Homo sapiens: one gene and its partners. The protein of the gene in region 4 interacts with the protein of the main gene of each other region in a pairwise test. Each region holds a gene or a part of one and is shown on either strand. Other genes may lie near its edges.

Evidence for each region.
Region 1: the proteins of MORN4 (region 4) and NUTM2F interact in a two-hybrid assay, tested with the Homo sapiens proteins (2 studies listed by BioGRID).
Region 2: the proteins of MORN4 (region 4) and RANBP3 interact in a two-hybrid assay, tested with the Homo sapiens proteins (2 studies listed by BioGRID).
Region 3: the proteins of MORN4 (region 4) and PLAGL2 interact in binary tests that used the Homo sapiens proteins (3 or more experiments, as listed by UniProt).

Annotation. Positions count from the first base shown.
Region 1 is NC_000009.12:94,323,085-94,331,525, reverse strand, and holds the start of NUTM2F (NUT family member 2F), read left to right. Parts: upstream 1-2,881; 5' UTR 2,882-2,902; coding exon 2,903-2,918; intron 2,919-5,591; coding exon 5,592-6,288; intron 6,289-7,523; exon of another isoform or gene 7,524-7,784; intron 7,785-8,441.
Region 2 is NC_000019.10:5,920,485-5,928,345, forward strand, and holds part of RANBP3 (ran-binding protein 3), read right to left. Parts: intron 7,604-7,861; coding exon 7,484-7,603; intron 5,254-7,483; coding exon 5,150-5,253; intron 4,422-5,149; coding exon 4,343-4,421; intron 3,431-4,342; coding exon 3,328-3,430; intron 2,820-3,327; coding exon 2,710-2,819; intron 838-2,709; coding exon 717-837; intron 1-716. UniProt on the Homo sapiens protein: Acts as a cofactor for XPO1/CRM1-mediated nuclear export, perhaps as export complex scaffolding protein. Bound to XPO1/CRM1, stabilizes the XPO1/CRM1-cargo interaction. In the absence of Ran-bound GTP prevents binding of XPO1/CRM1 to the nuclear pore complex.
Region 3 is NC_000020.11:32,195,696-32,203,556, forward strand, and holds part of PLAGL2 (zinc finger protein PLAGL2), read right to left. Parts: exon of another isoform or gene 7,785-7,861; intron 6,598-7,784; 5' UTR 6,484-6,597; coding exon 6,224-6,483; intron 1,988-6,223; coding exon 757-1,987; 3' UTR 1-756. UniProt on the Homo sapiens protein: Shows weak transcriptional activatory activity.
Region 4 is NC_000010.11:97,618,976-97,626,836, reverse strand, and holds part of MORN4 (MORN repeat-containing protein 4), read left to right. Parts: intron 1-7,153; 5' UTR 7,154-7,183; coding exon 7,184-7,250; intron 7,251-7,861. UniProt on the Homo sapiens protein: Plays a role in promoting axonal degeneration following neuronal injury by toxic insult or trauma.

The DNA of each region.
Region 1 (8,441 bases), on a different chromosome or scaffold from region 4:
TTTTGTATCAGTGGCTCAGAAAAAGACTCATTCAAATCCTGTATCAAAGCCATGTGTGAGCATCTTGAGAAAGCATTGACTGACTAACTTGACAAGGGAGGAAGCAAACAAGAATTCTGCCCTTCTTCAGTGCCTGAGTGTGATATTTTGCCTCAACATCCCTCTTAGATGAAGTTACTGATTGAAAATCATTTAAGTTTTTGCCCCGTGATAAAAGATCGCGTCCTCAGAAAGATCTCCAAAGCATTTACTGTTTGTTTGGTTTGGTTTTGGTAAGTTTACCATGATTTTGCTTGAATTGCTCTCCGCTGATCTTCTCAGCTAAGATCGAGGTAGAGTTGCACAGCAGAAGAGGGCTGCATGTAAGGAGGCAGCTCTGTCTCGGAGGACAAAAGGCCTGGGAGCATCCAGACAGGCAGTCACTGTGTGGAGGTCACTCCCCTCCCAGTGGCCACTGTGGAGGCATTTCATAGAAATGCTCGCTGGACCATTCAGTTTTAGAGTTGGGACAAAACCGAGAACTCATGAGGATATCGGATAGGAGTTAGGAAATGACTTTTTCACACAACCCAGGCAAGGAGGGGAGAACCCTGGGCTTGAGACTTGCAATCCACTGCCTGCCCCTGCAGTGTGGCCCGTTACGTTTTCTGCAACTCTGCCTTCTTGAGTCCAAATGTCTTTGAAAGGGGCAAATGCTTCTTAAGTGCCAACAGGGTGTGTTTCAGTGAATGTTCACAGTGTGCACTGGTCCGGCTGAAGGCCTCTTCCCTTCCCCAACACCCACCCATCAGTGCAAAAGACTGCTGCCCAGCAGGGAGTGACATCTGTGTCTCAGATTTTCTTGCTGTGCTCTGAGTACTCACTCCTCATCTCCTTTGACCAGTTTCCTAACACTCCCCTTGTTCACAACACAGAACATGAGTGCTCTTTCCTGTCATTTTGACGCTGATAAACAGCAATTCTGTGTGAAAATGAGAATGAAGATTTTTTTAAAGACAGGCTACAATAATTCCCATGCTGAGAACCACATGTGATGACACTTGTGATGAAGATGAGGACAGCAACGAGCTGAGAGACTCCAACCAGGATTCACACATGCAAGGGGATGCATGAGAATGGGGATGGGACATTGGTGGTTAGCATCCTTGCTTGTCTCAGAATGGACGTGGGTTGTGGATTTCTAACTCCTGGAGAAACCAGAGTTCTAGGAATTGTAAGCCACTTTATGTTAGGAAAGAAAAAGACGGTGTTCTGCTCTCCTGTCCCTTAAAACTGTGCGTACTGCCACTAAACCTGGAAGCTGAGAACGGTATAATGGCTACTCCTGACTTCCTTTCATCAAATCAGCCTGCTATTGTTTTCTGCAATGGTTGTGGTGCAGAATCTTTTTGTGGTGCAGCCAAGATTCACACTTGAGTCTCCTTACTGCAAGTTCGCACTCTCACAGTGGAGAGTTAACAATAATTGCCTAATATGTTACACTTTTTTGGGAAGAGTTACCAGATAAAGTGCAAGATCCCAGTGAAATGTGAATAGCACAGATAAAGGACAGATTTTTTTTTTTGTAAAAGTGTACTCTAAATGTCATATGGATCATAATTATAGTAAAAACTAATTCACTGTTTATCTTCAATTCAAATTCCACTTGGTATTCTTTATTCATACTTGCTAAATCTGGCCACTATGTTCTTTCATGTATTTTTAATTTTAAAAAACAGTCCAACATCTCATTCTAGCAATTTACCTACAGAAATAAAGAGAGGAACCACATTACTGGGACAAATACAGTCACTGCAAATATCAGAAGAATACTAGAACATATTAATATATTAATTTTTACCCCCAAAAAACTGAAAATATTTTTAGACAGCAAAAATAGCTTCATTATGCTTTTGATTGCATAATATATCTCTGGAAAGATGAAAAAGAATCAGATAACACCTATTTCCTCCAGGAAAGAAAATGTGGTGGCCAGAGAAAAGAGGTGGGAGGAAGGCTGGTCATTGTCTATTCCACTGTGCACAATTTGAATTTGGAACCATGCAAAAGTATTGCTTAGTTAAGTTAAAATCATGTAAAAGATACAAAATAAACATTTAACACCAGCACAATATGCTGGGAAACAAAATGAAAGGATTTCTGGTCTCGGTGCTGTAGGTCACATAGCCTCTCTTTCCTGGACTGAGTCTTCCTAAGAAAGGGGACGGGAAGTAAGGCTGGCCTACTGGTGTGGACAGATTCCAGCAACATACATGACCTGGGGGCACAAGGACTGCTTCCTAAACAATGATGAGCACACAGCCACCTAATAGCCTGGATCAGCTGAGGCCATTCTGATTTCAAACACTCAGTCCCCTTGCCTTCCTAAGAACCCCTGTGTTTCTCAGACTGAAAACGTGTTCTGAATTTTGTTAAGTAAGTGTGGCCCCTGTTGAAATTCATCAAGAGTGGGAAAGAGCCAAAGTGGGAAGGAGCATGGGTTGATTGGCACAAAAGTAGGTCTGTTGATAAAGAATGGAAGTAAAGGGGACATCAGGTAGAAGCTTTTGCTGTGAGTCAGAAGGACAATTTAAAAGTTGCCTAAAGAGGCGCACACTGTCTGTGTTGCTGCCATCCAGTTGGATGGCAACCAACTGAACCAAGGGAACCTCAGGTTCTTGCCTACTGGCCAGAGCCCTTCACAGAATGTCCCCCACCCCCGCCAAGCCCGGCTGCCCACTGCCCCTCCCCCTCTGCAGAATGTCTGGGGTCCTGTGTTCCAAACCTGTTTATATGCAAATTATCCCTGCTCCACTTGGACTCAGGAGGATCTGCTGAGTCAGGTCACTCTCTGGGTCCTGCCCTTGACTTTTTTCATTGCGGAAGCTGCCAGACAGTGGTGGTCAGTGCCCAGCCTGAGGGGATGGCTTCAAATGGAGGTGAGCCTGTAGGGATGGGGCATTATCCGAGTCTGCCTTGCCTCAACTCCTTGGGAATTCAAATTTGAACTGTCCCTGGGGACAGCTTATAGGGCTGATGTTGAGGGAGGGAGCACTGGATGTCCCCAGGGACATCACACCTGGGGATGGCCATGGCACCCTGAGTCTGTGGTTAGGGAGGAGGGCTCCTTAGAGGCGGACCAAGATGCCTGGGGGAATACACCGTGTAGTGGAAAGGATGGAGAGGATGGGTTGATCCTTTCTAGAGGGGGACAGGTCACGTCATTGTGTTTGTAGGGAGTGGTGGGATCGTGTTGTGCTGGTGGCCCAGGGAGAATGACGGGCAAGCCTGAGCCCTGTGCCGTGTCTTCAGGCACCTGGAAGGTGCCCTTCCATAGTGTTTAGAGGGATTTGGACTGGAGTTTTCTAGTTCTTAGAGAGGAGTGGGGAGAAGTGGTCTCAGCCAGAAAACTGTTGGGTGGGTTGGCTGTGACAGAGCATGTAGTGACAGCCTCTGGGTGGGCAAGGCTGGGGGCCACTGCAACTGCCACAGCCCAGAGCCTCTCAGCTTCCTCCCCAGAGATGGCTTCTCCGTCAGTTCAGGTAGCTGTTGGCTTTGATTTAACAGGGGTGGGGGCAGAATGGGGAAGTTCAGGCAACACAGGGCCTGGGTTTCCTGAGTTGTTCTGAATTGTTTGCCCTTTGGTGGAAGCTCAGGTCTTCAGACCCACTTCCTCTCGTCAGCTAGCTCATGGCCCGTCCTCTGTACTTTGTGTTACTGTGGAGGTGAAGAATTTGCTCCTGTTCCATTTATACTACCTCATGAACGGGCGACAGGTGTGGATTCTTGCTGGTTCTCAGTGGAAGGCTCTGAAAAGGCTGGTTTCCTTTTCAGTAGAGGAAGGAGAGTAGCGCACAAATAGGAAGACAGTCCTATTATTATTATTATTCAAACTAGGATGTGTGTCCTGACTGATGAGGTGCATGTGCTGTATCCCTTATTCCCCTTGGCTAGAGACTGCATGAGGTCCTAGTGAACAGGGATGAGTTCCAGACAACTCTGCCTCACCTGGCCTGTGGCCCAAGAACCCCTGGTTCTTCGTTGGTCCCTATGTTCAGTTACTGGGAGCTCAAAGGAGAAGGACCAGAGATGGGCTCCCTGTCCCACTATTTAGTGTAACATGACTAGCAGCTGTGAAAATCCCTGGCCGGGCGCGGTGGCTCACGCCTGTAATCCCAGCACTTTGGGAGACCAAGGCATGTGGATCACGAGGTCAGGAGTTCAAGACCAGCCTGACCAATATGGTGAAACCCCGTCTCTACTAAAAATACAAAAATTGGCTGGGCATGGTGGCGGGCGCCTGTAATCCCAGCTACTCAGGAGGCTGAGGCAGGAGAAGTGCTTGAACCTGGGAGGCAGAGGTTGCAGTGAGCTGAGATCGCACCACTGCACTCCAGCCTGGGTGACAGAGCGAGACTCCGTCTCAAAAAAAAAAAAAAAGAAAAAAAAGAAAATCCCTAGACACCTCCCCTGATAGCCCTGCTGCTCACCATTTGCTGGCTGTGTTCTAGTCATGTGCAGCTGTTGCTGGCTACACAATGACAATATCTCAGGGGACTCCACCACTGCTTCTCAGATCTGCTCCCTGGGAACTGAGCTTCCTGAGTGGCAGCTGGGACCACTGAGCACTGAGGAATGGGTGGCCTGAATCTGACCCCTATTTAACACTTGTGTGGGTGGTGCCAGGACAATCACTTGCATGCTGGGCGTGATGTGTTATGGGTTATCTTCAGGGTTCCTAGGGCACTGGCTTGGGTGAGTTTCCATCCAGTGGTTTTCTTTTTTTTTTTTTTTTTTTTTTTTGAGACGGAGTCTCGCTCTGTCACCCGGGCTGGAATGAAGTGGCACGATCTCGGCTCACTGCAGCCTCTGCCTCCTCGGTTCAAGCAATTCTCCTGTCTCAGCCTCCTGAGTAGCTGGGATTACAGGCACGCACCATCAGCTAATTTTTGTATTTTAGTAGAGACGGGGTTTCACCACGTTGGCCAGACTGGTCTTCAACTCCTGACCTCAGGTGATCCACCCGCCTGGGCCTCCCAAAGCGCTGGGATGACAGGCATGAACCAGCACGCCCGGCCTATCCAGTGGTTTTCTTTTGTTGTGTTGAGCTAGGAAAGAAAGGGGTTTACAAGAGCTTCAGGGAAAGGAAGACTGAAGAGGAGATGGGGCCATAATATTCGGAAACTTCTGGTTTCCTGTCGGCCTTCTGAATGCCGAGCACTGCCCTGGGGTAGGCCCCTCACCTGCTGCTGAGCACACTGAGAGCCACCAAGCCACCGAGAGACTCATCCCTGACCCATGGCTTGGGAGATGCCTGTGAGGCTGGTGCAGTCTGCCAGGGACACCCGAGGGAGACCCTCAGAGACAGCAAAGGCTTGGCTGTTTCTTCTTGGCAGACAAGGGTCAGGGAGTCTTGGTGACTGGCGCCAGGCTCTCTAGTGGAGCGACTCTGCCGTGGAGGAACAGAGCATCTGATGCACACTCAGGGACACTTGCAAGCTGCAGAGTTTCCCTGTCACATGCCCTCAGCTGTTGGGACTCCCCTGATTCCCCAGTGACTAGTGTGGACCTGGAGACGCCAGCTCATTCACCTCTTTCCTTTGTCTCCACAGCATACCCAGTGCTGGGACCCGGCGTGACCGTGAACCCTGGCACCTCCCTGTCTGTGTTCACGGCTCTGCCCTTTGCCACACCCGCTCCCGGCCCAGCACACAGGCCGCCCCTCGTGACTGCAGTGGTTCCTCCAGCCGGCCCTCTGGTGCTCTCTGCCTTCCCCAGCACCCCTCTAGTGGCAGGACAGGATGGCCGCGGCCCGAGTGGGGCCGGGGCTTCCAACGTCTTTGTCCAGATGAGGACAGAAGTGGGGCCTGTGAAGCCCCCTCAGGCACAGACCTTGATCCTAACTCAGGCCCCCCTCGTCTGGCAGGCTCCAGGCACCCTCTGTGGAGGTGTCATGTGTCCACCTCCCCTACTCCTGGCAGCTGCTCCTGGGGTGCCCGTTACCTCTGCCCAGGTGGTTGGGGGCACCCAGGCCTGTGAGGGAGGCTGGTCCCATGGCCTTCCTCTTCCACCACCACCACCGGCTGCCCAGGTGGCCCCCATCGTGTCCCCAGGGAACGCTAGGCCATGGCCACAAGGGGCTCATGGAGAGGGCAGCCTGGCTCCCTCCCAGGCCAAGGCCCGGCCGGACGACTCCTGTAAACCCAAGAGTGTCTATGAGAACTTCCGACTCTGGCAGCACTACAAGCCCCTGGCCCGGAGGCACCTTCCCCAGAGTCCTGACACTGAAGCGCTTTCCTGCTTCCTCATGTGAGTGTCCTCGGGGCGCCGGAGCTTGTCCTGCAGCTCACTCATAAAGAGGCTGCTGGATGGACAGGAGGTCACACTGTTCAGGGGAGCTTGCAGGGCGGTTGTGAGGGTGATGGGTTGTGCTATGGGAAGGTACGTTTTCAGCAACATTAATCTGGCTGCGGCTCAGGACAGACTGTCAGGGGCCTCACGTCAACTGCCTGTCACTGTCCCGTGAGTCCAGCCAATCCTTAATTTTTTTTTTTTTTTTGAGATGGACTTTCACTCTTGTTGCCCAGGCTGGAGTGCAATGGCGCGATCTCAGCTCATCACAACCTCCGCCTCCCGGGTTCAAGTGATTCTGCTGCCTCAGCTTCCTGAGTAGTTGGGATTACAGGCATGTGCCACCATGCCTGGCCAATTTTGTATTCGTAGAGATGGGGTTTCTCCATGTTGGTCAGGCTGGTCTTGAACTCCCGACCTCAGGTGATCTGCCCGCCTCAGCCTCTCAAAGTGCTGAGATTACAGGCATGAGCCATCATGCCCCGCCCCAATACTTACTTTCTTTTCTTTTCTTTTCTTTTTTTTTTTTTTTTGAGATGGAGTCTCACTCTGTCGCCCAGGCTGGAGTGCAGTGGCGCGATCTTGGCTCACTGCAAGCTCTACCTCCCAGGTTCACGTCATTCTCCTGCCTCAGGCTCCCGAGTAGCTGGGACTACAGGTGCCCACCACCATGCCCGGCTAATTTTTTTGTATTTTTAGTAGAGACGGGGTTTCACCATGTTAGCCAGGATGCTCTCAATCTCCTGCCCTGGTGATTCGCCCGCCTCGGCCTCCCAAAGTGCTGCGATTGCAGGCATGAGCCACCGTGCCTGGCTTTCACTTTCAATAATTTTCACAACAATGTTTACAGAAGACCCAGGTCAGAGAGCGTTCTTGGTGTGACATGAGCCACGGTTAGGGTTTAGGTCTTTTTTGTTTGTTTGTTTGAGATGGAGTCTCGCACTGTCACCCAGGCTGGAGTGCAATGGTGAGATCTTGGCTCACCGCAACCTCTGCCTCCTAGGTTCAAGCGATTCTCCTGCCTCAGCCTCCCAAGTACCTGGGCTTACAGGCGCCCGCCACCATGCCCAGCTAATTTTTTGTATTTTTTAGTAGAGACGGGGTTTCACTATGTTGAGCAGGCTGGTCTTGAACTCCTGACTTTGTGATCCACCCGCCTCAGCCTCCCAAAGTGCTAGGATTGCAGGCGTGAGCCACCGCACCCACCCTGGGTTTAGGTCTTTGAGTGTACACCCCAGTGCCTTCCCTCGAACTGAGTGTCAATGGCCAGGGGCACATCACATGGGGCTGGGGGGAGGAGCTGCAGGGCCCAGCAGGAACCTGGCACACACCCACACTGTTCTGCCGCGGTCCAGTTAGCACAGCGGTGGTGGAGCCTGCACAGGGGGATGGTCTTGGGACCCGCACTAGGGTCGATGCTGGGCAGGTATTAGCATCTTCACCGTCAATCCCCCCTAGAAAAAAGGACAATGGTGTTTCATTCAGAGGATGGCAAAGAGATGACCTGAGCTCACATATGACATACGTAGCACAGTGCCTGGCACATACTATGACACATTACATGACAGCAGTTATGATTACTGTCCCCATTACTACCATTATCAGGACTAGGCCATCTAGGAGAGTGCTCCCCAAAGCCACGGGCTCCAGTGATAGCTCTGAGTGCACCACGAGCCCAGCAGCCCAGAGCCGTGGACTGTGGTGACTGTGAGGCAGCAACATCAGCATCTGGGAGAGTTTGTGGTTTCATTCCCAGTCCCTGCCTCTCTCCACCCCGCGGCACCTCTGTGACCCTGTGTTTCCCGCTGATGAGCAAACAGGAGCTTGAGCATATCCACCGTGCAACACACTGGCCATTCCCCTAGGGGAGTCCCCTGCCTGGGGTGTAGGTGAAGGCGGCCCCGTCTTCCTCCCCAACAGTCTCGCTGCCCCCACACCCTGGAACTGGTTGCATCCCCCCTTGGAGCGGAGTCCCGGTGCACTGGGGACCCTGATTCTTGGAGTGTAGCCGCCCCGGGCTCACAGGCCTTTGCCTTGGCTCCTGTGGGAATGTGGGAAGCTGTGCCTGGCTGCTTGCAGTGGCTTGGACACCGCTCTGCTTTGGTTCTGGA
Region 2 (7,861 bases), on a different chromosome or scaffold from region 4:
ACCAATAGGGAAAAGTCCATTGACTGTCAATGGAATATTAACATGAAAGCTTTTCAAAAACAGTATATTTTATTTTTTTTTGAGATGGAGTCTTGGTCTGTCGCCCAGGCTGGAGTGCAGTGGCTCAATCTCGGCTCACTGCAATCTCCGTCTCCCAAGTTCACGCAATTCTCCTGCCTCAGCCTCCCGAGTAGCTGGGATTACAGACATGTATCACCATGCCCGGCTAATTTTTGTATTTTTAGTAGAGACAGGGTTTTGCCATGTTGGCCAGGCTGGTCTTGAACTCCTGACCTCAGGTGATCCGCCCACCTTGGCCTCCCAAAGTGCTGGGGTTACAGGCGTGAGCCACTGCGCCTGGCCAAAATTTGTCTTTATCAAGAGATTAGACTTGATGTTTGATTTCATTTTCCTTTCTATCATAAACCTGCCACTTTGTCAGAAAATCAGCTTAAAAACTTCCATAGACTTTTGTCCATTTTGACACTAAGAGGGTCACGGACGAGCTGGCAGCTGGAGCCAGTGTGTGAGGGTGGTGTTGAGGGCTGGGTGCAGGGAGGGGGTTTGGGGGGCGGCTCTCATGGGAGACCGACTCTGTGCCTTGACTCTCACAAGGGTAGGGTCAGGATCTCCCCCGCTTCATTCCCTTTGGAATTGCATAGTCCCCAGCCCTCCCCATGGGGACCCGGCCACAGCCCCCGCCGTCGGCAGCTCACCTAGTCGGGACTGTAGTGTGCCGTCATCGGTGGACGCCATGTCATTGAGTCTGAGCAGCCCCCGGCCTCTCTCCACCCAGGACTGTGAGGTCTTGTCAAAGACAAACAGCTTGCACTGCATCTGGAACACAGTGGCCGCCGGTAAGCAGGGACCCCAGCTGGTGTCCTGCTGCAGCCACACCCTGAGAGTCGCCCTTTAGCCTGTGGGGACTGCCAGGGCCAGCCAACGACGGCCTGGGGGCCACCTTGGTCAGTTTTTTGTCCTGCCCTCAAGCTAGAACAGGCTTTACATTGTATAAGGGGTATCTGAAATTAAAAGAATCACTAAGGAAATGAAAAGCAAAACAACGGTGAGAAGCCTCTCTGCGCACTCTAGGACGGCTATACCCATGTGGGGAAGCTGGAACCCTCACACACTGCTGGCGGGAAGGCCGCATGGTGCCACTGCTGTGGAAGAGTCTGGCGGCTCCTCAAACTGCTTAACAAGGAATTACCACATGCCCAAGCAATTCCATTCCTCGGTATGTACCCAAGAGAAATGGAACATTTGTTCGTGTTCACACACAGATCGCACATGAACGTGCACAGCACCATCATTCACGGTAGCCAAGTCTCAAGGAGGAATGGAGTGACACACATGGTCCGCCCCTACAGCGCATCTCACTCAGTCTTAATAAAGAACAAGGCTCCGACCCCCGCTGCAACGTGGATGAACCTCTGGCTCAGCGAGAGAAGCCAGACACGAAAGGCCACATAGTGCGTTGATGCCATTTATATGAAATGTCAAGGACAGGCAAAAAACAGAGACAGGAAGTGGATCTGTGGCTGCCAGGGGCTGGGGAGGGAGGAGGAGTTACTGCGAATGGACAATGCTCTTTCTGGGGGAATGGGACAGTGTTCTTTTTGGGGGCAGAAATGTTGTACGTTAGATTCTGGTGAAAGTTGTCTGACTCTGTGAATATACTAGAAACCACGGAATTGTATGCTTTAAAAGGATGGATTATATAGCATTTGTACTATATTTCAATACAGCAGTTTTGTATATATAAACAAAGAAAAATACGAGACAGACACCCCTACATGGCTTTCCACATACCCCCTAAGTCAATCTCTTTCAACATGAACAGATGACAAAGTGGTAAGTGGGAAAAAAGAACAGTGCTCTTAAGAACGCCACGATACGCCACCCGGTTTACAGACACAGACACCTGCTTATGTGCCACGGGAGAGGAAGCACATGGATGCTGCCCAAGCCGGGTGGTGCGGCCTGAGGAGCAGGAATGGGGGATGCCAGGAGGGGACGGTGGGGTGGAACCTCTGGCCGCACCTGATCTTTTCCCTACGAAGACACCACAGGATGCCAGGTGACAAATAATACAGTTGCCAGCTCTGGGCGACAAGAGAATATGTTTGGTATGACAGTCTTTGTCATTCCCTGAACCATCAAAAATGTCTCGGGCTGGGCGTGGTGGCTCACGCCTGTCATCCCAGCACTTTGGGAGGCCGAGGCGGGTGGATCACATGAGGTCAGGAGTTTGAGACCAGCCTGGCCAACATGGGGAAACCCCGTCTCTACTAAAAATACAAAAATTAGCCTGGCGTGGTGGTGCACACCTGTAATCCCAGCTACTCAGGCGACTGAGGCACAAGAATCCCTTGAACCCAGGAAGCAGAGGTTGCAGTGAGCCGAGACTGTGCCACTGTACTCCAGCCTGGGTGACAGAGTAAGACATTGTCTCAAAAAAAATTAAAACAAAACAAAGAATGTCTCAAACAGATCCTCCTCCTCTGAAACCAAAGACATGCAAGAAGCCCCTGAGCCTAAGCTCTCTCTACAAACGCCACCAACAAAGTCCCAGAGCGTGGGGCCAGTGGCCCCTCCGTCATCTCAGGGGCAGGCCTGTGTGCTCAGAGGATGTGGGCCCAGCCCTTGCGGTTGGACCCCCAGGTGCATGGAAGACCCAGGGCCACCGAGGAGGGGCCGGCCCCTCACCTGTAACACATTGCTCTCCGCCTCCTCCCCGGTGATGACTTCCACTTTTTCCAACAAACACTTCCGCGCTGTTGCCTTGGTGTAGGCGGCTGCCGACTCAGCCAGGGACTCTGAAAAGTTATTGGCCAAAAAGACTGACTGATTATTTGGCGAGAGGAGAGCCATCTCCCCTCATCCGACAGGAGATGAGAGGGTTGGTTCTGGTCTCAAGGACGCCTGCTGCCCCTGGCAGGCCTGCCCCGGCAACCCAAGTGGACCCTAGACACAGCCAGAGCATATGGCCTCAGAAGCTGCAGGGAGACCATCTGGGGGCCAAGTGTGGCCCCAGACTCTCGTGTTCGTGCCGAGCAGTCGACGGGGGGACAGTGAGGGACTCCTCCACGCCTGCTGCCTGCGCCTCCCCACCCTCCCCACGGCCACAAGGCGACACAGGCCCTCGAGTTCTTTATCACAAACCCTTGCTCACTGCAAGGCAGGGCCCTGGAGCTGGTTCACATGTGGTTGTTACTGCTGCGGGAGTCGGGCCCCTTATCCCTCCCGGCTGGGGGTGTGAATGGACCCAGCATCCCCCAAGATGACCTACCATGAGCCCCATGCTGTGGTGGGACGCTAACATACCTTTCTCAGGGGTGGCCTCCTGGGACGAGGACTCAGACCCTGACTCGGCAGCTGCATTTTCCCTGTTGGCATCTGAACTGACCTCGTTTAATTTTGGGGGGCTCTGCAGGGACACAAAAGCATACAAGGAAGAGGGCACTTGTGTGGTCCTTCAGCAGCAGCTCTGAGCACCTCTCTGCCTGGCCCCCAACACTACGCTGCCCCCAGCACTCCTGCCCACTCCCGGTGACACCCTGAACTGCCTGGGAGCTCCCCACGTGGTCCCTCAGGCATCACTACGGGGTGAGTGCCACCAGCCGACAGTCCCCTCGAGCCACACTGGTCACTCCGTCTGGGTGAGGCAAGACTTTGAACATTTCATTGAAATAGAAAAAGCACAGCGTGGCCACGAAGGAAGAGAAGCTGCAGAGTACTTAATGCAGCCTAACTCCAGACAGAGCTAGAGTGACCAGGCGGCTCAGGACAGGCCCTCACGCAGTCGCAATGGAGCTGGGTGGAATCAGGAAGAAAAAGGAACATGTGTAAAGAGGTAGGCAAACCATTCTAGAACCCTCTCCCAGGCTGGCTGGGCTCCTGGGAACGGAGATGGGCCTTTCGTGCACCCAAGGCCTTGGCCGCGGTTATGCTCACAGGAGCAGGGAGGCCAGCAACCCTGTCCACCAGCACGGCTGGCTCCGTCCCACAGGACTTTTGTCAGTTGGCCTGGTGGGGAGGAACCATGGACCCCGACTGCCAGCAGGACCCTGCAGCCTCCAGGGAAGCCCATCTTGGGATGAAGTTGGCCCTGGTCAGCACGGAGGAGCCGGGAAAAGCGAATGCCAGTTCGTAGGCAGCCAGTGGCCCTGGCCAGTTTTCAGGCTGAGTCTGAGCAGGGTCTTCCCTCTCTCACTTGCTACTGAAGGCATCCCCATCTCACATAGGACGACACAGCAGCCCTGCTCTCCATGTCCCCTTGACCTGTGGCTGGCGCCGAGAGCCTCTGGTCCCTGAGAACATTCCCAACACAGCCACTCACCAAAACTCGCTCGCTCATGTTCTGGCCAAATACAAATTTGTTGCTGGAGGCGTCGGCACTATTGGTTGAGTTCTCTAAACTGAAGAGAAGATGTGCAATGAGTGTGGGGCGTCACGTGGGAACGTGGCCAGGCAAATGTATGGGTACCCATGGAGCACACACTGACACAGAGGGCACAGTGGAGGGGCCTCCGCCACTGTGCACGGGGTGGCGTGTCAGAGGCAGGAAGCCACACACCTCCCTGTGCCATTGAAAACATTAACCCTTAGCTCGCCCTGATGGAGGGGCCCCACAGCATGAGGGAAGCCACCTTCCACCTGCTCTACCCGCCCATCTCCCAGTCGGGACACGCTTTCTTCTGAGACACCTGGAGGGGCAGCTGGTCCGTGGGTAGCATTACCCCCAGCCATGTCAGTCAAGGACATGATGAGGTCTTTGCCCCAGGTGCCCAAACCCAGAATAAGGGGGCGCCTGAGTCGCCTCTGGCCTGCTCTGTTCTGCTCTGGGCATGAGGTCCACAAGACAGAGGGCACACTCCAAGGGCTGGGCTGTAGCCTCCATGGGCCCCTGGACAACCCCACAGAACTCTGGTCCTGTCTCAGGCGTCCAGTGAATCCCAGGACAAGGCCCACCACCCTGGCCCACCCAAGGTTGTGCCCAGAGTGGGGAATGAGAGAGAGGGGCCTGAGAGCAACCTGGATTCTGGGCCTGAGTCGGGCACGGGGACCACAGACCCCTCTCTGGCAGAAGCCCTCGCGGCCACCTGCATCGCCATGCCAGGCTGGCCGCTGACACCGAGACACACACCTGGAACTGATATACTGGAGGAAATAGTTCGTTGCGGTTGGCGTGTCTGCGCTGGGGTGTCCAGCATTCTCCATGTCGGCTTCGTCCACGCTCTCATTTATCAGCTGGGAATGAGACGGAGCGCTCAGTAATCGGGGGTGGGGGGGTGCCTGGAGTTCCACAGCTCAGTGTCTGCAGACCCCCTGAGCTGCATGGAGCTGCTCGGAGCCATGAACCCTCTCCTGTACCCGCCTGTGTGTGTGCGCGTGCATGTGCTGGGGGGCAGGGCTATAATCAACTCCATCACCTTTTGCTTTAACAGTTAGGATGGAAAGAGAGCTCATGAAGCTCCAAGGAGCCTTTTCCACCTTGTTACAAAACCACGCCTTGTTATAAAACCACGCCTAAGCTGGCCTCTCGGTCAATGCTTCATACCAATAACACAACGTTACAAAGCTGACGTTTTGGGGGGTTTACTATGAACATGATAGAAGCAGAATTTCTTGAGGGCCTCTTTCCTACCAGCTGCTATGCTGAGTCTGTCAAATGCACGATCTGCTTTAATCCTCACGAGGCCTGGGAGGGGGATGTTAGGGACCCTGTTTGACCAACAAGGAAGCAGAGGCTCAGAGGGTTAAGAAACCATGGCTCTGGCTGGGCGCGGTGGCTCGTGCCTGTAATACCAGCACTTTGGGAGGCTGAGGCGGCGGGGAATCACTTGAGGTCAGGAATTCGAGACCAGCCTGGCCAACATGGAGAAATCCCCACCTCTACTAAAAATACAAAAAATTAGCTGGATGTGGCAGTGGGCGCCTGTAATCCCAGATATTTGGGAGGCTGAGGCAGGAGAATCGCTTGAACCCAGGAGGTGGAGGTTGCAGTGAGCAGAGATCATGCCACTGCACTCCAGCCTGGGCGACACAGCAAGACTTCGTGTCCAAAGAAAAAAAAAGAATCCATGGCTCAAGTTTGCCCTGGAAGGAGAGGCTGGGATTTGACTGAGACTGCGAAGTGCACGTAAGCCTCTGACTTCTGCAAGAAGCCAACCCCACCAAATTCAAAGCAGCTGTCTCCCCAGACTCAAGGCAGAGATTCCACAGGGCCTGAACTCCACAGGCCAAGCCCTTCCCCGCCTCTTGCCCTCCCTCCTTGGAGGGAACAGCCCCTGAGGGACTCATTATTTTGCCTAAAGCCATGGCAACAGCAACATCAACTTTCCACGTTTCTCGACTTGGGCTTCTGTTGGACGGTGAGTAACAGAAAGGAAAGCAGAAAACACAAGCCGGTGCTTTCTGCATGCTAGAGAGGTTTTTGTTTATTTCAGGGCCCTCCCCGTCGACACTACTGACATGTTGACACTGGGCCCAGAACATTCCCTGTGGTGTGGCTATCCTGGGCACTGCAAGGGGCGGAGTGGCATCCCTGACCTCCAGAAGTACCTCCCAGTTGTGACAACCACAAAAGTCTCTAGACACAGCCACCGATACCGCCTCTCGAGCTTTGAAAGAAGCTTCTTGCCAGTGGAGCTGCTAGAGATGCCGTAGCACATTCCATGTCTGTGGCTGGGAAAGGTGGTGCTGGCTGACCCTGGTCTTCCTAGAGTCCCAGTGCATGGTCCAGGGCCACTGTTTCCAACCACTGCCATCCCTTCCCCACCACACAATCTCCAAACTAGGACCACATGTCTGGAGGGCAGCCAAGAGGTGGCAGACGCTTTGCTCCCTTTCAGGAGAGAAGACAGTGTTGTCACCCCACCCTGCCCCACTTAAAAAAAAATAAGGTGACAGTTCTTAATGGGGGCGATTCTACTCCACAGGGAATACTGGCCACGTCTGGGGACATTTGTGGTTGTCAGATGTCAGGAGCATTGGGTGGGTGGAGGCCAGTGATGCTGCTCAGCACCCTGCAGTGCCCAGGGCGACTCCTCAGAAACTAAGAATGGTCCAGCCGTAATGCTGCTAGTGCTGAAACAGAGAAACCCTGAAATACGGGAACAGAAACCTCTGGGCAGAGCTGAGAACACTGGACCGTGCTGTCTTTCTTCTCTGCTATGAAAGCCTGAGGCCTCAGGTTCAGTCACCTTCCCTGTCCCCGCTACCATGAGAACCAGGGACCCTGACTTGAGAAGTCACTGCAGGTGAGGGCTCCGAAGCCTGGGCTGCTGGTGGGGAAGTGCCAGGGCCCAGCACACGCACACCAGCAGCAGACTGTGCCGTGAGCCATGGGGCTGCCTCGCTAACACCTTCTTTGTCCCACGCTCCCCTCCCCTGTTAAAAGGAAAATCTACCTACTTGCCTGCTGTTGAACCTGGGGAAGGCATAAAAAGTCAATGTGCTGGTTCAACAGCTCACATACCTTAACTCTGTCCCTCAAGTTCTGCCCAAATACAAAGGCTTGCTGTGTGGCGGGGTCTTTTTTCTCACAGGCTTCCTCTTCAGAGGCATTGCTGGACTCATTTTTCTGGGGCTCTTTCTCCTATCAAAAACCAAAACAAAACAGAGTAATCAAAACCAGTGCCACACTTGGCCCAGACGGATGCCCAGCAATCCCACACCAGATCATGTACTCCACACGTCTCCTCTGCATGTGCCTGCACTCCCAGCTACTCAGAAGGCTGAGACAGGAGGACTGCTTGAGCCTGGGAGTTGTAGTGAGCTGAGATCACACCACTGCACTCCAGCCTGGGTGACAGAGCAAAAACCTGTCTCCAAACAACAAGAAACACCTGTGCCC
Region 3 (7,861 bases), on a different chromosome or scaffold from region 4:
TCCACCTTGTAAACAGGACTCCAGTTAACACCAGGTACCAAATGGTTCAGGCTGGTGCCAACTGGAATGGACTGATGGGAATGGATTCACGGTGTGTAAACAGTGTTCACTGCAATCACTCTAAGGCTAACAGCTTGGCAAGGGAGGTGAAATGGTGTGTCTGAGGTGACTGTGTAAACGGTACCGTTGCTGGACAACACTGACTGAAAACGGAGGTGCTGGTACAGGAGGAATGGGTGGGCGAGAAATAAAGGCCTTCTCTCCTGCCCATTGGTTGGAAGCAGGCAATGGAGCCAAGTGACCTTCTACAGCAGGGCCTGACCAACTGACTGCTGTGGGGTCTGCAGGTTGGGACCAGAAGGTGGGCTTCTTGGGCAATTTCTCTAGAGGTCATCCAAGGTGAAACCCTCTGTGTCTCCAAGAGGCCTCCCCATTCTCCAAAGAGAAGGAGGTTCTGGCGCTTTGGAGAGGAAGAGGGCCAAGTGTGGCTCCCGATTCAGGTCAAAAAAATAAAAGTAAATAATACCTGAAGTCCTACGGTATGAGATCTTTTCACGGGGTTGGGGCTCAAGGCTCCTTCTGGAATCGATCCTAGAGCCTGAACCCCCAAACCAAGTGCTCCTGTATACAGACACTGGAATTTTTTTTTTTGAACCCAGCTCTGAAAGCTCAGCTGCCTTCATGGGGGACACAGACGGGGTGGGTACTAAGGCTCCATAACAGAGCCAAAAACTGAGCTGAGGGCCTCTGTGGGGGCTACTGGAATGCTTGATGGAAACGAGGCAGGGTGGTGCTACTCAGGCCAGACGTGAAGACAGGAGGCAAGGAGTGCAGAGGCCCAAAGTTCAGTGGTCCCCCAGCTCCTGGGGAATCTTGAGGCTGAGCTTGCAAAGTGGTAAGCAGGGGCTGTGCCTCAGCCTGGGAGTAGCCCATGACCAGGCCTCCTGTGGCCCCAGGTGGGTTACACGGGGGCAGGTTGAGTGGAAGAAAGCCCAGTAGGTGGGAGAAGTCCACATTAGCAGCGCAGAGGGCCTCAGAGAGGTTGGCGGGGCTCTTGGCAAGCAGTGCTTCATCTAGGAGGGCCGCAGCTGCCGCCGGCTGAGGTGAGGCGGGCTGGGGTTCAGCGGATGAGAGAGACAGGCTTCCAGGAAGCTCCGCCAGAAAACTATCCACCTCCACTTTGGGCAATTTGTCGGGCAAGTATGAGGTAGATCCAAGCTGGTATTTTGGAGGGAGCTGAGCTGGGGAAGAGATAGGTGAGGATTCCAGAGGGTAGCTCATACCCATGGGCAGCGTGTTGTGCACCAGGGAGTGTGGCACGCCCGTGCTGGGCATGGTAGGGATGTGGGCACCATACATGCCCATGGGCAACATGCCAGGGAAGGCCTTGGTCCCCATTACGTCCCGAGAGGCCATGCACAGCACAGGGCTCAGCTCTTCCTTCACACTGACTGTGGAGCTGCAGCTGAGTAGGCCTAACATGTCCACGGGCTCTGTCTTGATCTTGAGCAGCTCCTGCGAGTGGCTCTTCTTGACATGACGCGTCAGGTGGTCCTTACGGCCAAACCGCTGGGCACAGTACTGGCACAGGAAGTCCTTACGGCCTGTGTGCACCACTAGGTGCCGCCGTACATCCTTACGAGTATAGAACCGCCGGTCGCAGTGGTCACAGGGGTGCTTCTTCTCCTTGGCACCGCCTGCTACCCGGCGTGAGTGGGCCTTCAGGTGCTCTAGCAGGGCCTGGGTACTCTCAAAGGTCTGCAGGCACACCTTGCAGCTGAGGTCACCGCTGCTGGCAGCATGCATGGCCAGGTGGCGCCGGTAGCCCAGCTTCGTATTGTAATTCTTACCGCACTCAGAGCAGTGGAGGGCCTCTTTGTTAGGATCATGGGTCTGCAGATGGTTCCGCAGATGGTCCTTGCGGTGAAACATCTTATCACAGTACATACACTGGTGGGGTTTCTGGGCTGAGTGGGTGGCCATGTGCCTGGGGGTAGAGACAGGGGATAGGGGAGAAAGCAGAAAGAGGGGAGATCACAAGGGATGACTGGACAACCAAAGGTGTCCATTAACAGGAAACTAGATATAAAAACCATGGTAAAGGCTTGCAATGCAATACCAAACCAGTTATATTCTACAGATATCCTTGCCTATCTGCAAAATAATGTGTACCGACATTCTTTGCAGCATTGCTTGTAGTAGCAAAAAAAATCAGAAACAATCTGAACGTCCAATCTATCAATAGGGAACTGGTTACATAAATTATGATAAGTCCATAAAATGACTCAACTTTTCAAAAATGAGGCTTTTTGTGTACTTACAGGGAACATGCTCCTAAGAGACAGGAAGTAGAAAAAAAGCAAGGAGGCAGAATAGTGGATGTAGACTAGGACTCTATGTGAAAAGGGGAAAAATATATGTATGTTTGCTTGTATATGGCTAAAATATTTCTGGAAGGACATACAAGAAACTGATACCAGTGGCTGCCTATGCGAAAAAGAACCGAACAGCTTATAGATGGGTGTCATGGAGAATTTTCATCGTATAAGTTTTGGTACTTTTTGAATTTTGAATTACGTGAAAGTATTTCATTTTTTAAACATTACATTTAAATAATTTTAAATGATACAATAAAGAGAAAATAAAATATACCTAAACGTGCAGTCTGGGCACAGTGGTGCATGCCTGTAATCACAGCACTATGGGAGGGTGAGGCAGGAGGATCATTTGAGCCCAGGAGTTTCAGACCAACCTGAACAACATAGCGAGACCTTGTCTCTACAAAATCTTAACCATTAGATGGGCATGGCAGCATGCACCTGTAGTCCTAGCTACTCAAGAGGCTAAGGCAGGATTACTTGAGCCCAGGAATTTGAAGTTGCAGTGAGCTGTGATCGCACCACTGCACTCCATCCTGGGTGACAGAGCAAGACTCCGTCTCTAAATAAATAAATAAACTTCCTTATCTAGAACAAATTTCCAAGATATACAGGGCTAAGTCAAAAAAGGAAGTTCAATACAGTACATGTGATACAATCTGTTTTGAAAATAAAAAAGAAAGAGAATATACATGTTTGAATGTCTTAGGAAGGATACACAAAAACCAACCCACCAGCTGCCTTTGGGGAGAGGAATAGTGACTTCGAGTGTGAGGATCATTCATTCTTCACTGCATGCCAGTATGTACCACTTGAATTGCTTGTCATATAAACCAGTAACACTTTAAGAAATGTTTTAATGGTATGGCACTTCAGTGTCCCTTGGTTTACCTGATCCTATATGGTTGAAAAGTGGCTCAGAATCCAGGAACTGCAATTCACAGCTCCAGAGCATATTCAGAATCAACTCAGCACCCACTGTTTGCCAGGCTCTGCATAAGCTGTGTCATTAACCTTGATCTCCAGACAAGGAAAGGAGTCTAAAAAAAAGGCAGCCCCCTCACCCTAGCAGAGGCTGAATTTAAACAGGCCTTCGGAAGACCTATGTTCAGTCAGGTATGCAACAGCTGTCTCTCTCTCGTACAGCACTCTGTGATCCTTTCTACCTGGAGGGTATCAAACACACCCCCTGCCCACATCCCACATATGCATGCTCAAGAGTGCTCGTGCCTATGTGGGTTACTGTCAACCTCCTGTGATGGAACTGACGTGGTAATGTAGAGAGGGAGGTGCTGAGTGATCCACTTTTCATTTCCCTCATTTTGCAGGTGAGGAAACTGAGGCCCAAAGAGGTCTAGCAACTCACCTAAGATCACACAGTAAATTATATGTGATGAGTCAGGGCTCCTGCCTCCTGACCCAGGACCTTTCCTGCAGCCGCCCACTGGCAACCAGATCATCATTAAGAAAGTCTAAGAAGGCCGGGTGCAGTGGCTCATGCCAGTAATCCCAATACTTTGGGAGGCTAAGGTGGAGGGACTGCTTGAGGCCAGGAATTTGAGATCACCCTGCACAACACAGGGAAGAGATCCTGTCTCTAGGAAACATGCAAAAATTAGCGGGTGTGGTGGTGGTACATGCCTGTGATCCTAGCTACTCAGGAGGCTGAGGCAGGAGGATCACTTGAGCCCAGGAGTTTGAGGCTGCAGTTAGTTATAATCACGCCACTATACTCCAGCTTGGGCAAAAGTGAGACCCTGTCTCAAAAAAAAAAGAAAAAAAAGAAAGCCTAAGAGTATGGCCTTGACTGGAGTTCCCTTAACTTATAGGAGCACACAGAGAATCTAAGCACTCCTGAGGACCACAGAATTGTCAAGAGGGCAATCCTGACTACCATGCTACCCTGTTGCCTATTTTAGTCCCTTCCTATTAACTGTTTTCCAGATGAGGAACTGAGGCTTTGTGGTCATCTTGTTCATGTATTTACTTGTTTACTGTCTGTACCCACTATTAAGACCATAAACCCAAGGAGGACCAGCACCCCCATCTGTCTGGCTCACTACTCCGCCCCTTGCACCGAGCACTGTGCCTGGTACAGAGCAAGAGCTCAATAATGTTGGATAGATGAATGGATGGTTGGATGACTGTGCATCAGGCCAATCTATCTCATTTCTTTTTTTTTGAGACGGAGTCTCGCTCTGTCGCCCAGGCTGGAGTGCAGTGGTGTGATCTCGGCTCACTGCAAGCTCTGCCTCCTGGGTTCACACCATTCTCCTGCCTCAGCCTCCCGGTAGCTGGGACTACAGGCGCCTGCCACCGCGCCCAGCTAATTTTTTTTGTATTTTTAGTAGAGACGGGGTTTCACCGTGGTCTCGATCTCCTGACCTCGTGATCCGCCTGCCTTGGCCTCCCAAAGTGCTGGGATTACAGGCGTGAGCCACCGCACCCGGCTGATCTATCTCATTTCTAAAGGGCAAGTTCATGGTTCCTCTAATGCGAAAAGGATAAAATCAAAATTGCTCTTTTTTGTTTTTTTTGAGACAGTCTTGCTCTGTCACCCAGGCTGGAGTACAGTGGCACAATCTCAGTTCACTGCAACCTCCTTCTCCTGGGTTCAAGTGATTCTCCTGCCACAGAGTCCCAAGTAGCTGGGACTACAGGCATGTGCCACCACACCCAGCTAATTTTTAAAAAATTTTTAGTAGAGATGGGGTTTCACCATGTTGGCCAGGCTTGCCTCAAACTCCTGGCCTCAAGTGATCCGCCCGCCTCAGCCTCCCAAAGTGCTGGGATTACAAGTGCGAGCCACCACGCCTGGCCCAAAATTGCTTTTGACCATGCCTCCCCATCCTCACCAAAGCAACCAAAGCTGCTCTTCTCTATCTGCCTTATGTCAGGGCTTTTACGTTTAATTTCACTTTAAGTAGGGGTTCTTGGGCTTACAAGTTTCAGAAAAGCAGCTGCCCCAGTGGGCAACAGGGAGACAGACATAGTTAAATGAGTAAGTAGCAGGCTGATTCAGTAGAAGAGGCACTGCAGGACCTCTGAAGCTGTGTGACCTTGGGTAAGTTATGTCCCTACTCTGAACCTCTACTTTAAAATTTACAGACTGGGCCAGAAGGTCTACTTTTCCTTCTAAAGTTCGAATACTGATTCCTAACTTCTAGCTAAAATTCTGACCATCACCTGACAAAGGTGAGGAAAGCAATATTTAAAAAAAAATGTTCAGGGCTAAGTGCGGTGGCTCATGCCTGTAATCTCACTGCTTTGGGAAGCCAAGGCAGGAGGATCACTTGAGCCCAGGAGTTTGAAACCAGCCTGGGGAACACAGCCACACCCCCATATCTACAAAAAATTAAAAACAACCAGGTGCGGTGGTTCAAGCCTGTAATCCTAGTTACCTGGGAGAATGAGTCAAGAGAATCACTTGAGCCCAGGAATTGGAGGCTGCAGTGAGCTGATTGCACCACTGTACTCTAGCCTGGATGACAGAGCAAGACTCCCATTTCTTAAAAAAACAAACAAACAAACAAACAAAACTCAAGGCTGCCTGACATTGGCACCCAGATCGTCACTAAGAAGGTGTAAGAAGGCCAGGTGCAGTGGCTCACGCCAGCAATCCCAATACTTTGGGGAGGCAACCCATCAGATTCTAGTGTCTGAATCAAGCAATCTGAATCATTTTTTAGTGAGTGACTTCAACTGTTTGGCATTCAGGGTATACTTGTAGGACAAATTAACCTCCACTCTTCTGCCACAGATTAAAAACCCACACTAGGCAGAGTCTCTCTGCTTTTTCCCTCTGGGAACCTCAGGGCAGGAAGAGATATGAGAGTGTCACCTACCTATACAGCTTGTATTTGGAAGCAAAAGCCTTGCCACAGTGCAGCTGAGGGCAGCTATATGGTCTCTGCTCTGGTTGCGGGAGGCTGTGAGGCCTCAGCTTCTCCCCATTTGAGAAAGGTGTTCCCGAAATTTCACATTGGCACTTCACTTGACTCTCCGCCTCCCGGCCCCGAGGCCTGGGAACTAGTTTCCAGCCCACTTCCTCCTCCTGCTTTGCATCTTGAATCCAGGGGGGGACGCTGGTGAAAAATGTGGTCATGGCAAGGCTAATGGCAAAGGGCCATGTTATTGAGAAAGCCTCCCCATCCGCTCCACACAGGCTCTCAGCTCTGTCACAGCCTCCAACGCAGCTTTCAGAAAACAATCTCTTCACCTGAAACATCAGAACACCTGGTGTTAGGGAGCCCAATACCATGAGAACATGGGCTCTGGAAGCAGACAGATCCCGTTCCAATCCCAGCCCTTCCACTTAGAAGCTGTGTGACTTTCAGCCAATTACTTACTTCCCTGAGCTGTTTCCTCATTTATAAAATGGGCATAATAATCTCCTAAATTATAAAAATGTTTTGAGGATTAAATGAGATCATGAATATAAAGCATTCAGCAGAAGGCTGGGCATCCATTAAGTGCTTAGTGGTAGCTACTATTACTAGTACCATCTAGGCTAATAAGAAACAAGATAAACTGAGGAACCAAAAGCCCCAAAACTTCAAACTTTTTCTTCTGGACCTCACTTTTATATCCTTTCCATTGAACCTAGAGATAGCGGTTCCTCCTTCTTATTACCCTGGCACCTCCTCGTCCACTACTTTCCACAATTGTCCTCCTCATGGAGGTGCTAAGGAGCAATAAAATGCCCAAAAGGCAAGAGAGGAGGAAGGGGAAGCCTCTACTTAGGAAATTTACATCCTAGTCAGTCCTGGTACCAGATGTGTTTCTTAGCAGTGCATCAACATCAGGAGGGTCTATATGGGAAGGCAACAGCAGATTCTTAGCATTTTCCCTAAACCAGGACTAGAACTGGTCCCATCCTGACCACCACCACTTCTCTGGGTCACTGTGTCTCAGGGCCCAGACCATCCCTCTTTAGCAAAGCCTGTCCAACACCCCTAGGTGCTGAGAGGCCCCTCCTACAGGGCCTCAGAGTACATATGCACATCTCCTTTAGAAGACGGTAGCGAGCTCGCATTGGAATTTACTCCTCTCCACCAGCCTGATTGTCTGAGGGCTTGCATCATCTCTCTTTCATCTCTATATACCTAATATCTAGAAAAGGAACCCTAACTTTATTTCAGATAGGTAAACTAGTCACTGAATGCAGGTTGATTCTCAGGGACCAACCTAGGCCCAGGTAGTTCTGGTTTAAACTGGGTTCGCAGCCATTCCCAAGTGGGGAGCCGAAATCTTAAAGTCTGATTCTTTCTCTTGTTGAATAGAAGGGGAGATGTGCAAGAACGACACAACTCCATTCCAGATACTAATCCAGAGGAAGAGGATGGGAGTTACCACACTGACTCTCAAAAGGGGACAAGAGACCCACATTCATACTCCCAAGCTTACCACAGATTACCAACCACGATGCAACCTGCTACAACAGGGGGATTCCCTTTGAAGAGATGGTGCCAAAATTTGATCAT
Region 4 (7,861 bases):
ACAGTGAGCTGAGACTGCACCATTGCACTCCAGCCTGGGCCACAGGAATGAAACTCTGTCTAAAAAAAAAAAAAAAAAAAAATCTGGGCACAGTGGCTCATGCCTGTAATCCCAGCACTTTGGAAGGCTGAGATGGGTGGCTCACCTGAGGTCAGGAGTTCGAGACCAGCCTGACCAACATGGTGAAGCCCTGTCTCTACTAAAAATACAAAAATTAGCCAGCCATGGTGACGGTCACCTGAAATCCCAGCTATTCGAGAGGCTGAGGCAGGAGAATTACTTGAACTCGGGAGGTGGAGGTTGCAGTGAGCCGACATTGCACCACTGCACTCCAGTCTGGGCCACAGAGCAAGACTCCGTTTCAAGAAAAAAAAAAAAAGAGAGAGAACAAGCATCAGAACATATTATGATTATGATTATGATTATGATTATGATTATGATTATTATTATTATTATTTTTGAGTCAGAGTCTCGCTCTGTCACCCAGGCTGGAGACCAGTGGCATGATCTTGGCTCACTGCAACCTCCACCTCCCAGATTCAAGTGATTCTCCTGTCTCAGCCTCTCAAGTAGCTGGGACTACAGGCATGTGCCACCACGCCTGGCTAATTTTTGTGTTTTTAGTAAAGACAGGGCTTCACCATGTTGGCCAGGCTGGTCTCGAACTCCTGACCTCAGGTGATCCATCTTAGCCTCCCAAAGTGCTGGGATTACAGGCGTGAGCCACTGTGCCCAGCCCGCTTGTTCTCTTTAAAAAAAAAAAAAAAAAAGGCATGAGGCTGGGTGTGGTGGCTCATGCTTATAATCCTAGCACTTTCGGAGGCCAAGGCCAGAGATTGCTTGAGGCTAGGAGTTTGAGATTAGCCTGGGCAACATAGTGGGACACGGTCTCTACAAAAAAGTTAGTTGGGCATGGTGGTGTGTGCCTATAGTCCTAGCTACTTGGGAGGCTGGGGCAGAAGGGTTGCTTGAGCCCACAAGTTCAGGGTTGCAGTGAGTTATGATCAAGCGATTGCACACCAGCATGGGCAACAGAGCGACACACTGTCTCCTTAAAAAACAAAAAATCGTTATGACATGAGGCCAAAATAAAAATATCCTGTAGGATGTTGATAAAGAGTGGATGGGTGGCAACTATAGTTTGTTTTTCCTCTACTTAGTATTCAGCTCTTTAGTCAAAATTGCTGAGATTTTCTTTTTCAAAGTGTTGTTTGAATTACATTGGTAGCAGTTTTTACTGAGGAAAGACCTAGAGAAGTTTTCATTACAGTAAGTATATGTGTGAGTTTAAGTGTAAAACTTTGAAAGAGGAAAGAAACTAACATTTAGTGGACAGGCCCTAGCAGTGTTCTAGGTACTTACGTGTGTGTCATTTTCTTTCTTTTATTTTTCTTTTCTGTCACCCACTGACTCTCAGATATTTAATTTAATCCACCTGCCAACTATGTGAAATACATATCTTATCTCCACTTTACAGATGAGGAGACTGAGATTTAGAGATACTTAAATACCTTGCCCATAATTATACAGTGAACTCATATTTGAACTCAAGTCCTCCTGTGCTCAGAGTCTACAACACCACCATATTATCCTGGGAGGCCAGATAGGATAGTATGGTATAAGTTAGCAAGTTACTGTAAGAACTTGTGCCAGCAAGGCCAGCTGTCAGAGCTCTGATTCTAACTTTCACGTGTTAGTTTCCACATGTATGACCTTAGTTAATTTACTTATCCTCTCTGCACCTTAGTTTCCTCATCCCTAAAGTGGAAATAATAATAATACCCACCCCAAAAAGTTGTTGTGAGATGAAATTAGATAATATATTTTAAAAACACTGATGCTCATGCCGTGTGCGGTGACTCACGCCTGTATTCTTAGCACTTTGGGAGGCCGCGGCAGGTGGATCACCTGAGGTCAGGATCACCTGAGGTCACCTGACCAACATGGTGAAACCCCATCTCTACTGAAAATACAAAATTAGCCAGGCGTGGTGGCGCATGCCTGTAATCCCAGCTACTTGGGAGGCTGAGGCGGAGGTTGGAGTGAGCAAAGATCGCGCCATTGCACTCCAGCCTGGGGAAGAATAACAGTGAAACTCCGTCTCAAAAACAAAACAAAACAAAAAACACTGATGCTCACACCAGTAATCCCAGCTACTTGGGAAGCTGATGAGGAAGAATCACTTGAGGCCAGGAGTTCGGGACCAGTCTAGGCACCATAGCGATACCCATCTCAACAAAAAATTTGAAAAGTAGCTGGGTGTGTTGGCACACACCTCTAGTCCCAGCTACTGGAGAGGATGAAGCGGGAGGATCACTTTAGCCCAGAAGTTTGAGACTGCAGTGAGCTCTAATCACAATCACACTACTGCATTCCAGGCTGGGTAACTGAGTGAGACCCCATCTCTTAAAACAAAACAAATAAACAACACTGATGGAACACAGTAAGAGGTCAGTAAATGTTAGCTTCTGTTATAAAGGTATTTCAGACAGCTTCTCTGGGGTTAGTGCAATTGATTATTAGAGAGGGTTGTGCCACCTGAATTGAAATATAAATAATCTAGCACTGTCCACCATGACAATGTGGAGAAAGCAAATTTAACATATGGGTTGTTTTAGTTGAACATTTAAAGCATCACTTTTGCATAAAATATACCAGACCCCTTTTGTGCTATGAAACTATGGAACCCACTCTTTGGAACTCCATCTTGACTGGATGAGGTTTTGGCTTCCCTGGGACTTGAAGGAAAAGGAAGCTAGCTGTTGGCGCCAGGCCCCCGAGATTTAAGAATCCCATCTTGCGGCCAGGCACGGTGGCTCATGCCTGTAATCCCAGCACTTTGGGAGGCCAAGGCGGGCGGATCACGAGGTCAGGAGATTGAGACCATCCTGGCTAACACGGTGAAACTCCATCTCTACTAAAAAATACAAAAAGTTAGTGGGGCGTCGTGGTGGGCACCTGTAGTCCCAGCTACTCGGGAGGCTGAGGCAGGAGAATGGCATGAACCCGGGAGGCAGAGCTTGCAGTCAGCCGAGATCATGCCACTGCACTCCAGCCTGGGCAACAGAGTGAGACTCTGTCTCAAAAAAAGAAAAAAAAAAAAAAAGAATCCCGTCTTGTTTTGAGCTGGGAGCAGTGGCATGCACCTGTAGTTCCAGCTACTCAGAAGTCTAAGAGGGGATTGGAGGATCTCTTGAACCTAGGAGTTCAAGTCCAGCCTGGGTAACATAATGAGACCCTGTCTCTAAAAGAAAAAAGAATTCTTTCCTGTTTCTCCACCAGGTCTGGCCCCAGTACTCTGAGGAGAATGTGTCCTTGTCCTGTTGGAACTCAGTCAGATGCCTGAGGGTCAGACTCTAGGTTACTTATTAATCAGAGGGGACTTTTTTTTTGGAGGGGGACAGGGTCTCGCTCTGTCACCCAGGCTGTAGTGGCACTGTCATGACTTACTGCAGCCTCAGACTCCTGGGCTCAAGCAATTGTCCCTGCTCAGCCTCCCAAAGTGCTGGAATTACAGGCATGAGCCACCATGCTTGGTTGATAGAGGACTTTTCAATAGTGATTTATAGTTCAGAGAACTTTTCACACACAGTATTTCCATTTATTGTAGCAGTAGGCCACAAGCTTTGAAGTAAGGATCTAATGATGTGCTTATTAAAACTGCAGGTTCCCAGGCTCTGACTACAGAATCTGATTCAGTAAGTCTGAGTTTGGGCCTAGGAATCTGCATTGTCAAAATTACTGGAGAAAACATTGTATTGCTTAGATCTGGAAAAGATGAGGAGGTAGCTAGATGTGGTAGTGTGCGCCTGTAGTCCCAGCTACTCAGGAGACTGAGGTGACGGGATGCCTTGAATCCAGGAGTTTGAGGTTACAGTGAGCTATGATCGTGCCACCGTGCTCTAGCCTGGGTGACAGAGCAAGACCCTGTCTCTAAAAAATAAATAAATAAATAAATAAATAAATAAATAAATAAATGAAAGATGAAGGGATGAATGAAGAGACCTAGGGAATTAAAAAAGAAATAGGGCTTGTATTTTTTAGTCTATCAAATGACGTACTATTTGCCTCTGTTTATATTTAATGATTTTGGGGGGTATCTTAATTCCCTCTTCTTCTTCTTCCGTTTTTTTTTTTTTTTTTGAGACAGGGTCTCCCTCTGTCGCCCAGGCTGGAGTGTCGTGGCGTGATCTTGGCTCACTGCACTTCTGCCTCCTGGGTTCAAGCGATCCTTCCACCTCAGCCTCCCAAGTAGCTGGGACTACAGGAACGCACCACCACACCCGGCTAATTTTTGGATTTTTTGTAATTTTGGTACAGATGGGGTTTCACCATATTGCCCAGGCTGGTCTCAAACTCCTGAGCTCAAGTGGTCCGCAAGCCTCAGCCTCCCAAAGTGCTGGGATTGTAGGTTTGAGCCACCGTGCAGTTCCCTTCTTATAGAATATCCTTCAATACATCCTTTCACCACTAATGTGAAGCCATATCTAGCCAGTCCCCAAATGTTACTGATTGTTTTCCTATGATGTATCCCCCCAGTTGTTCCTTCTGCTCCCATTATACTGTGATCTCCCAGACTCATGCCTGAACGTATCAGTTAGCTTTTTCTGGGTAATAACACACCACCAGAAAACACAGTGGCTTGAAACAATAACCATTTATTTATCCTGTGAGTCTGTGGTCGCTAGTTTGGGGCCGGGCTCAGAAGGGCAGTTCTTCTAGTCTTGCCTGAGCAATTTGTTCATCTGTGGCCAGCTGGGACAGGGTCTCACCATCCAGTAGACTAGATTGGACTCATTTACATGGGGGCAGAACAGGTCCAAGTGTAGCAAGAGGGCAAGCCCAGTGCACAGGTGCTTTGCAGACCTCTGCTAGATCACCTTTGCGAACATTCCATTATCTAGAACAAGTCACACAGCCAACCCAGGTCCAGCAGGTGGAGGAATAAATAAACTCTGCCTCTTTTTTTTTTTAGACAGAGCCTCACTCTGTCGCCCAGGCTGGAATGCAGTGGTGCGATCTTGGCTTACTGCAACCTCTGCCTCCCGAGTTCAAGCAGTTCTTCTGCATCAGTCTCCCGAGTAGCTGGGATTACAGGCACCCGCCACCACGCCCTGCTAATGTTTTGTATCTTTAGTAGAGACAGGATTTCTCCATGCTGGCCATTCTGGTTCAGGTGATCCACCCACTCCGCCTCCCAGAGTGCTGGGATTACAGGCGTGAGCCACCGCACCCGGCCAACTCTGCCTCTTAATGGGAGGATCTGCCTTGTCACATTGTAGGGTCATGAACGGAGGGAGAATAACTCTGCCCATTTTTACAATTTGCTTCATTATCATATTTCCCTTCCTTGCAAGCTTTTCTGACTATGGACTTGCTGCTCCAATTCATCCCACTTCGTGCTACCACATTCATTTTCCTTACACACTGCCTTCATATTACATCCTGGTTCACAAACCCGCAGAGGTCGCCTCTTTTCCTCCCTCATATGCTGTAAACTCTTATGCCCAGCTTTCAAAGGTCTCTTTAAGTTAGCCTGAGCTAAAAGCAGAGGCTGTGCTGTACAGGAAAAAAGGACTAGCATAGTCAGGGGAGGCTGTCAACAAACTTTATTACCTCTCTGGGCTTCTATTTCTCCTATAAAATGAGAGGTTGGGCTAAATCCATGAGATTCTTTTCAGATTTATTTATTTATTTATTTATTTATTTATTTCTCGAGACAGAGTCTTGCTCTGTCACCCAGGCTGGAGTGCAGTGGTGTGATCTCAGCTCACTGCAACCTCTGCCTCCTGGGTTCAAGCAATTCTCCTGCCTCAGCCTCCTGAGTAGCTGGGATTACAGGTGCCCGCCACCACACCCGGCTAATTTTTGTATTTTTAGTAGAGATGGGGTTTTACCATGTTGGCCAAGCTGGTCTCGAACTCCTGACCTCGTGATCCGCCCACCTCGGCCTCACAAAGTTCTGGGATTACAGGCATGAGCTACCACGCCCGGCCTATTTTTTGTTTTTTAATTTTACATTTTTGACATGAGGTCTTGCTATGTTGCCCAGGCTGGTCTTGAACTCCTGGGCTCAAGTGATCCTCCCACCTCGGCCTCCCAAAGTGCTGGGATTACAGGTGTGAGTCACTGCACCAGGCCTCTCTTCAAATTTAAGATTGTGGCTACATGTACCTACACAGGCTTATTTCCTAATACTCCCCAAATAAACCCTCAACTGTAATGAGACCAGGCTTCTTATTTTGCCATGGAACATCTCGTGTTCACATTGCCCTTAGAGTGTTCCTTGCCCTTTGAGTGTTGGTTCCCCATATTTTCTTTTTTTTTTCTTTTTTTTTTTTTTTTTTTGAGACAGAGTCTTGCTCCGTCACCCAGGCTGGAGTAACAGTGGTGTGATCTCAGCTCACTACAACCTCCGCCTCCCGGGTTTAAGTGATTCTCCCGCCTCAGCCTCCCAAGTAGCTAGGATTACAGGCTCCTGCCACCACGCCCAGCTAATTTTTGTATTTTTAGTAGAGACGGGGTCTCACCATGTTGGCCAGGCTGGTCTCAAACAACTGACCTCAGGTCATCCCACCCACCTCGGCCTCCCAAAGTGTTGGGATTACAGGCGTGAGCCACTGCCCCTGGCCTGTTCCCTATGTTTTCTGATTCTGGAATTGCTCTTTGCCTTCTCCACTGCTTGTCTGCTTGTTTTAAATTCTGGCCATCTCATGTCTTTGTTAATCTCTGCCATCCAAGTTGGCACTTAATCACATTATCTCTGGCATAATTCAGTGTTTAAATTGTTAGTCTTATTAACTAGATTATAAACTCGTCAAGGGAAGATACTGTATTTTATACATCGACTGAGCACATAGTAGGTATCAAATAAATATTTGTAGATTAATATTTGTAGATTTCCATCCCAGGTCATAGAAAATAGGAACTGGCTGAAAACTTTTAAGATAAGCAGGAGGATAAGAGCACTTGGGCAGAGGTGGAGATGATGGTGCTGGTGGTGGTTGGAGATAGGGGTATTTTGGTTAAATGCACCTAAGGCAGTGTACACTTACCAGGCTGGTGGCCTTTAGAATGTATCTATAAAATTGCCTTGCAGTCCTTTCCTCCCGCCATTCCATGACACTGGTTCTCCTTTGCTTATTTCCTACAGTTTCATCCTTTTATCCTGTAATCTGTCACCATGACCCTGACAAAAGGTTCCTTCACCTACTCCAGTGGGGAGGAATATCGTGGCGAGTGGAAGGAGGGTGAGAAGGACCCCTGGGGAGTATCCATGATGAACACTTCATTTGCTGGAGGACAAATACATCAGGATATATAGCCAACTTTATGGATCTTCATTTTCAACTCCAGGATTTAATTCCATATAGTGCCTGCCATTCCTTTATTCCATTTTAGGATTAAATAAAGGAATTTGAAAATGCTATTGTTAATTCAACCTCCAGGAATGAGTTATATCTTTCTTTTTTTTGCTTCTGTTTTTGTTTTGTTTTGTTTTGTTTTTTGAGATGAGGTCTCGCTCACTATGTTGCCTAGGCTGGAGTGCAGTGGTGCAATCTCAGCTCACTGCAACCTCTGCCCCCTGGGTTCAAGCGATTCTCGTGCCTCAGCCTCCCAAGTAGCTGGGATTACAGGCGCCTGCCACCACATCTGGCTAATTTTTGTATTTTTAGTAGAGACGGGGTTTCACCATGTTGGCCAGGCTGGTCTCGAACTCCTGACCTCAGGTGATCTGCCCACCTCGGCCTCCCCAAGTGCTGGGATTACAGGCATCAGCCACCATGCCCGGCCCATGCCAGCCTCTCTTCTAAGCATTTTGTATTTATCATCTTATTTAATCCTCATGACAACCTTATGA